Homo sapiens: one gene and its partner. The protein of the gene in region 1 purifies or fractionates together with the protein of each later gene. This does not show direct contact. Each region holds a gene or a part of one and is shown on either strand. Other genes may lie near its edges.

What was found.
Region 2: the proteins of PLEKHA6 (region 1) and PPP2R2B purify together in Homo sapiens (co-immunoprecipitation; one large-scale study listed by IntAct). This does not show direct contact.

The regions. Positions count from the first base shown.
Region 1 is NC_000001.11:204,349,747-204,353,566, reverse strand, and holds part of PLEKHA6 (pleckstrin homology domain-containing family A member 6), read left to right. Parts: intron 1-2,583; exon of another isoform or gene 2,584-2,625; coding exon of another isoform or gene 2,626-2,687; intron 2,688-3,820.
Region 2 is NC_000005.10:146,581,605-146,585,424, reverse strand, and holds part of PPP2R2B (serine/threonine-protein phosphatase 2A 55 kDa regulatory subunit B beta isoform), read left to right. Parts: 3' UTR 1-3,820. UniProt on the Homo sapiens protein: The B regulatory subunit might modulate substrate selectivity and catalytic activity, and might also direct the localization of the catalytic enzyme to a particular subcellular compartment.

The DNA of each region.
Region 1 (3,820 bases):
CTCCCGGTGGCCCTGGCCACTGCTTCTTGGACTCTGACCTTCTCAGTCACTTCTCTGCTGTCCAGTAATTCCTGACTCCATTGTCTTCTAATCCTGCCAACTCTCCCCACAACTATGAGTGATTACAGGGCAGTACTTAGCACATAGTAGGTGCTCAACAAATGTTGGTTGGATATATGAAGCTTTGGATGGGAGGGTTAGGCCCCAAGGAGCAGGCACAGAGAAACACTCATGAGAAAGCCTTGGGTGAGGGCAGTGGTGGGGAATTTATTCCCTGTTCTCCTCAGCCTTGCCTCTCACTCCACTGTACTTCTTCAAGGCAAGAGATGGCCTGATTTGTCTTATTTGTATCTGTGATGTTTCACGCAGAGCCAGTCACAAAATGGTTGGTAACTGCTTTTTGATTGGCTGAGTGAATGAGACAGGGTGATGTGGTAGAGACAGCATGGAATTAAGTGGTGGGTAGAACTTGGGAGCCTGGCCCTACCATTTGCTTTGGGTACATACTTACTGCATGCTCCTTATGTACCAGGCAGGTACTAGGTTGCAAAAATGAATTTTTATTTTGATTTATTTATTTTTGAGATGGGGCCTCACTCTGTCCCCCAGGCTGGAATGCAGTGGCATGATCATAGCTCACTGTAGTCTCCACCTCCTAGGCTCATGCAGTCCTCCCACCTCAGCCTCCTGAGTAGCTGGGACCACAGGCATGCACCACCACACCTGGCTGATTATTTTATTTTTTGTAGAGACAGAGTCTCACTTTGTTGCCCAGGCTAGTCTTAAACTCCTGGGCTCAAGTGATCCTCCTGCCTCGGCCTCCCAAAGTATTGGGACTACAGGCGTGAGCCACTGTGACCGGTCAAAAAAAAATTTTTAAACTCACGCTCTTGTAAGGGAGCAGATGAGTGAGCAAACGACCATGCTGTATATGATACAGACATATGCTACATATGTTGGTGGCCAAAAAAGAAAAGGATAGACTCTCCTAGGAGGTTCCCCAAGGCAGAAACCTTAAGCCGGGTCTCAGCTTGGGAAAATTACTTAACCTCTCTGGGTCTCTGTTTCCTAAGCTATCCTGTTAGGAGACTGAAGTCTCCGCAGCGGCAAGGAGTAAATGAAATAAAATAATATGAAGAAAACATGTGGCACTGGATAGTCTTTTTTTCTTTTTTCTTTTCTTTTTTTTTTTGAGACGGAGTCTCGCTCTGTGGCCCAGGCTGGAGTGCAGTGGTGCGATCTTGGCTCACTGCAACCTCTGCCTCCCAGGTTCAAGCAATTCTCCTGCCTCAGCCTCCTGAGTAGCTGGGATTACAAGGCATGCGCCACCATGCCGGGCTAATTTTGGTATTTTTAGTAGAGATGGGGTTTCACCATGTTGGCCAGGCTGGTCTCAAATTCCTGGCCTCAAGTGATCTGTCTGCCTTGGCCTCCGGAAGTGCTGGGGTTACAGGTGTGAGCCACCACACCTGGCCTAAATAATCTTTTTTTTTGAGACAAAGTCTCACTCTGTCACCCAGGCTGGAGTGCAGTGGCGAGATCTCGGCTCACTGCAACCTCCGCCTGCCAGGTTCAAACGATTCTCTTGCCTCAGCCTCCTGAGTAGTTGGGATTACAGACATGCACCACCACGCCTGGCTAATTTTTGTATTTTTAGTAGAGATGAGTTTTTACCATGTTGGGCATGGTGAAACTTAATAACTTAATAAAAGTTAAAAATGTCACCTTGAAACCAGGCCTGGGATTGGTTGGTGGGAGGAGCTTGGGGAGGGCAGGAGCTGAAGGAATTCCAGGAAGCTGGTCCCTACACAGCCTCACCCTGTCTCTGCTGGTTAGTACCTGTGCAGCCTTGAGTAAGTCCCTCACCTTCTCTAAGTCTCAGGCACTCTATCTGCGAAGTGAGGATAATATGATTGTTGTATGGCTCAATTGAGAAACTTCACACAAGTCACCTACAACATGCTAGGCACATAGTAAGTACTAGAAAATATTAGCTCTTCCTTATGATTTTTACCACCATATTTCACAGAGAGACCACATCTGCACGCTGACACACGCATGTTGCATATGTGTGGACTCCTGGATATGCTCAGGAAGGGCGGAGGGTGAGAGGGCCTGGGGTTAGGCTGAATGACAGCTGGCTGCTGCTCAGCCTGAGAAGCCTTCCTGGAGGTGAGGCGACCGGAACTCTGTAGAGAAGGTGGGAGGGGTCGGGTTCGGCTTGGGTGATGGAACTGGGGAGGACGGCTTGTGGTTCATGCCCAAGTTGGGGGAGCCTGCTTCATGGGAAACATGTCAAAGGGAAAGGTGGCCCCTGACAGCAGGAACTTAGTTATCTCAGGCACGTAGGCCACCTCCCCCCCGCCACACCCCACTCCCCCTGCCTGGGCCAGTCCTGCCAGCAGCATCCCAGCTGCTCGGTAGCCCGGCTGGTCCCCTGACCTTCCTAAGCAAGGCAGCCTGGCGGCCATGCTGGGTTGCCGTGGTAACTGGCGGCCTCCCAGCTGGGTTGCCCGGGTAACCGGTTAGCTGGCGTTCGGAGAGGAGGGTGGTGAGCTGGGGGAAGTCAGCCTCAAAAGAGGCAGAGAAGGACAAGGGCTGGACAAGGAGGAAGACAGATCCCAGATGCCCCCAGCACAGCCCTCTCCTCTCTCCCTCGTGGGACTGGGAAAGCCAGAAAAAGGCAGGTAGGAAAGAATGTTGTGCTGTTTCCGACCCTTTGTGTGTATGTTTTGCAGTGTGAGTCGTCTTGGCCTTCATGGGACGTTTAGGGGATTTGACAGGGCGGCTCAGGAGCTAACCCTGGCAGTGATAAAACCAGGGGCCATCCAAACCAAGACGTCAGTCCTGGTCCTCCCCCCGCCCCCATCTCCCAGACAATTTTACCTCTTTGAGCTTTGATTTCTTCATCTGTAAAATGGAGAGAACTTGGACCTCCAGAGCACACGTTTGGGAGCAGTGCCTGGCACCGTCAGCGGTGGGTTCCTTCCTCTCCTTCCATAGTGATTTTTGATTTGGTGGCTGCTTTCCAGCCTGTGAAGAGCTTGCACTAGAGGCCAACCCTGCTCTGAGCCCAGCCCTGCGGAGGGGATGGTGGTGGGATGGTTGGAATTCTTGACAAATTAGAGACATGGCTCTTACCTCAAGGAGTTTACCAGCTCACTCTGCTGAGGGCAGAACACAAGTTACACAGGTTGGAACATCTGCAAGAGCAAGAAAGGTTTTTTTATTTTTGTTTTTGTTTTTGAGACACGGTCTTACTCTGTCACCCATGCTGGAGTGTCCTGGTGACATCATAGCTCATTGCAGCCTTGACCTCCCTGGCTCAAGCCATCCTCCCACCTCAGCCTCCCAAGGAGCTGGGACTACACGTGCTTGCCACTGTGCCCAGCTAATTTTTGTATTTTTTGGTAGAGACGGTTTCACCATGTTGTCCAGGCTGGTCTTGAACTTCTGGGCTCAAGTGAGCCATCTGCCTCAGCTTCCCAAAGTGCTGGGATTACAGACATGAACCACTGCGCCTGGCCAGAATGTTTTAAAAGGAAGACATCGAAATTTTTGACTGCAACCAGTAGAAATACATTCCAGGAGCACATGCGTGTTACCCTTACTGTAAGTGGTGCATGTCATATTGCAGTCTTGTCTGGCCTATACATATTTATTTTTAAAGATAGTCTTCACCCTTCAACTTGCTTTCGCACTCACAGATGAGTCACTTCTTTCAGTGAAACACTGAGACAGCATGCGCACTAAGGCTCTTCAGGTATGTATAGGCCCTCCCCCACTGCTCTCACCTTCCAGGTGCCATCACCTGGGGCAT
Region 2 (3,820 bases), on another chromosome or scaffold:
TTGTTGTTCTCATTTTATAGATACAGAAACAGATGAATGACAACCAAATTTACACAGTTCACAAGTGACAAAGCCAGGCAGTTTTAGTTAAAGTTCTTATCCACTATCCCCATCATACATTATGTGTGTGTGTGTGTGTGTGTGTGTGTGTGTGTGTGTGTGTGTATGCATGTAGATGGAAGTTACTGATCAGAAAACAAGCCCCAGTAATGACCCATAAGCTCAATGAATTAAAGATTCATTGGTTGCCTGGGATGTGTCAGGCAGCCAGGTTCTAGACAAGGGGCTGGAGTTACTAAGATATTTAAACCACTGGCCCCTGCCCTCCAAGAGATGACACTCACATAGGAGAAAGTGCATATTTGCATACTGTAAACATTTTTACAATGAGATATCTATGAAGGGCAGAAGTCATACAGAGGAAGAAATAGTTAATCAATGAGTGATAAGAAAAGGTTCTCAGAATGTGTCATCTAAGCAGAATTTTAACTAAATTTGCTCAACAAAGCATGATACAGCGTTTCCAATAGGTAGACCAACATATACCAGAATATGAAGCAAAATCCATATGGCATGGAAACAGAAAGCCAATGTTTCTCTCCTTCCATTAGAAACACATTTTCGACATACTAGAACTAGCCTACCCCTTTTTCCTTTTGTTCATCCAATAACAAATATTTATTAAACCTTATTTTAAGCACTGTATTTAAGTGTAAAGTAGACGGAAAGAATAAAAGGAAACCAATATTTCCTGAGTAGTTATTGCAATGACAGGCATTGGGAGAGGCACTGTTTTAAATCATTGTTAATCACCTGATAGGTAGATGTATTATTCCATTTTTATAGCGAGAAACAGACTCAAAAGGGTTAGATGACGTAGCAGGAAGTTTTATCTAGATCTATCCTGTTCCAGATCCTATACTTCTTCCATCACAGTTATTGGTAATGCAGAGTTACCTTGGCTTGATTATTTTCCCTAGCGTGGATACTCACAAACACGCCATTTCTCTGTGACTAAATATTGCCTGACAGCTGACCAAGAATACAAATTTGGTCTGTCATCAAAGCAGAGAGTGAAGTCAAGTGGCTCACAGGTCTCCAACTTCTGACTTTGACCTTATTATGACTGATTAACTGTCCCCCAATTTAGATATTCCATGCCCCATTGGTTAAACTGCTGGTGGCAGAACCATCATGATCTGCCATCTCCGCTGATCCCTGCCTCAGCTGCAATCAAAGCAATGATCACTGTCAGGCCAGAAGAAGGGGCTTAGCCACTGCCAAGACAGATCCCAGTCCACTCCCAGCCTTCCCGCCCCTGCTGCTCATTCCCCAAAAAGTCAACCTGGGTTTTCCTGGGTGAACAGTGCCCACTGAACAGCTCCTGCTTGCCCATCTCAAGCCCTCTCAGTTGCCACTCCAATCATTTTGGCTGCTGTATTTGGTTTGAGAAAGAGTGGAGAGGACACTTCTTCATAACTCATATTTGACAGAAACCCAGAAATTGTAGGAACAAGCCATGATTGCTGTGATTCTTGCTCTGGTTGGCTAGGGATGCCCTCCCTTCCAGCCAGAGTAATACATACTTGTGGGAGTCATGGAAGACTGAGGAAGCTGGAGTAGAAGGGAACAGGGGCTTTCCTCAGTGGTAAAAGGAAAAGCAACATTTTGGAACTCTAAACAGTTGCTCAGTTGGGCGAATTTCATGCATTCATTCATTCATTTACTAAATGGTTAATGATTGTTCATGTACTGCCTGCCAAGCCCATGCCAGGGTGGTCTGTGGAAGCAGCAGTGACAGCTCCATCTTCACACAGCTCACAGATAGCGGGAGGTGCAGACAAACTCACAGGCAATGGTGGCAGTGGAATGTCAAGAGCCCAGGATACCGAGCCTGCCAGCCTGCCTGCCTGGGTTAAAATCTGAGCTCCACCATGTAAAAGCTGAGCAACCTAGAAAAATGACAACCTCTCTGTGCCTCGATTTTCTCATTATGAGATAAGGATAAAAACGACATCTATCTCATAAAATTGCTGTGAAGATTGCATGATTTAATATGCACAAAGCTCTTAGAAGGATGCCTGGCCCACAAATATGCATTCAGTGCACATTTCTTGCTACAGTTCTGCTAATCCTATAAAACATATGCACTATGATGGATGTGTCTGGGTGCCAGGAGGACACAAAGGAGCACTAACTCATCCAGACCAGAAGCTTCCCAGAGGAGGTGATTCCCAAGGTGAAATCCGAAAGATAAAGGGAGTGAGTTATCCAGGAGAAGAGAAAGGAAAAGCATATTCCAGACATCAGGATAGGACAGTGGAGGCAAAACAGCATATGCTATATATATATGGAATTCACAACACTCTGGTATGACTGATTAGTAAAAAGTAGGAAGGCAGACCAAGAGAAATAAGGAGACATGGTAAGGTGAGTGGGCAATAATGCATGATCTGAAAAATAATAATGCATGGACTTAGTGTGGTTCACATATCAGGAGCTTCTCCAATAGCCAGGCTATGAGGCACTAAAATGAGGAAATATGGTTTCCAAACTTCGCAAATACTTATAGTCCAGCCACAGGGGATATACTGATAAACTCAGCTCAAATGTCACCTCCTCAGAGATGCTTTCTCAACCACCCTTAGTTCCATGAGGACTGCATCATTGTTTAGGCCACTCCTGTATCCCCAGAGCACAGAACATTGTCTGGCTCATAGTAGGTGCTCAAAAGTTTTGTTGAATGAATGAACAAATAAACGTGTAAGGAAGTCAGGCACAGCACTTGCCCACAGGAAGCTTATAAGATGAGCGGCATGCCATTGGGAGTTTGAATGATATATGGAGATCCAAACAGGGCATCAGAGGACTGCTCAGAGGAGTCAGGGAATTAAGAAAAAATTGGGAGCCAGTGAGCCAAGATGTGTTAAAAGCAAGTGATCAAGCTTAGATTGCAGTGTTAGTTAATAGAGCATATGTGTCCCTGCCTGATGCATTACCTTCCCTGCAGTAGTTAGCCTTCTGGGACCCTGAAAAGCATGCAGAAAGGTTGACAGCTTACAATCAATACCATGTTCACTGATGCAGGAAGCAACATTATCACATCCAAGATATTGCCCCCACACCCAGGCTGCAGCACTAAATATTCCCCATAACAAGGCAAAGGGAAGTGACAAGAGCTATTATTCTCAACCCTCCCACTTGGAAACAAGAGGTGAGACAAACCTTCCCCTAGATGTTCTTAGGGAAAGGCAAGACCCCCAAAGAAATCTTTCAGAGCTGAGCACATGCCTAATACAGCAAGACAGGGATGGGAGAAGATTGGCATTTTCATTTGCCTGGGTGTCCACAATATTGCAGGGGAAGCTCTGTGGGCAGCTGGGAAATACAACAATAAATTGGAGGGGGATGAACAATAGGGTCAGTGGGGCTGTGTGCTGAGTGAATGCTGGATTTTATTCTACATGCCCAATTCACTCCAATAAGATAAACTTGACTTCCTCCAGTGTGGCTTTCTTATTTCAGCTTCTCTGACTGTGGCATAATTGAAAGTCATATTTCATCTAGACCATTGGTTTTCAACTCCAAATGCAGGTGGCTTATGAAGACTCAGCCTGAATATATAAAGAGAACAGCAAACAATCATAGTTGCATATTAAAGACAATCTATTTCTCCGTAAAGGAAAGTAAAGTGAGTCATATTACATACAAGCCACAATACAGAACTGATCTGAAATACACTGCGGAATGGCCTTTCAGTCTATGCTGGACTCTAACAGGAAAAAGGCAGAAGGTGGTCAATGGTGCATTTATTTAAACC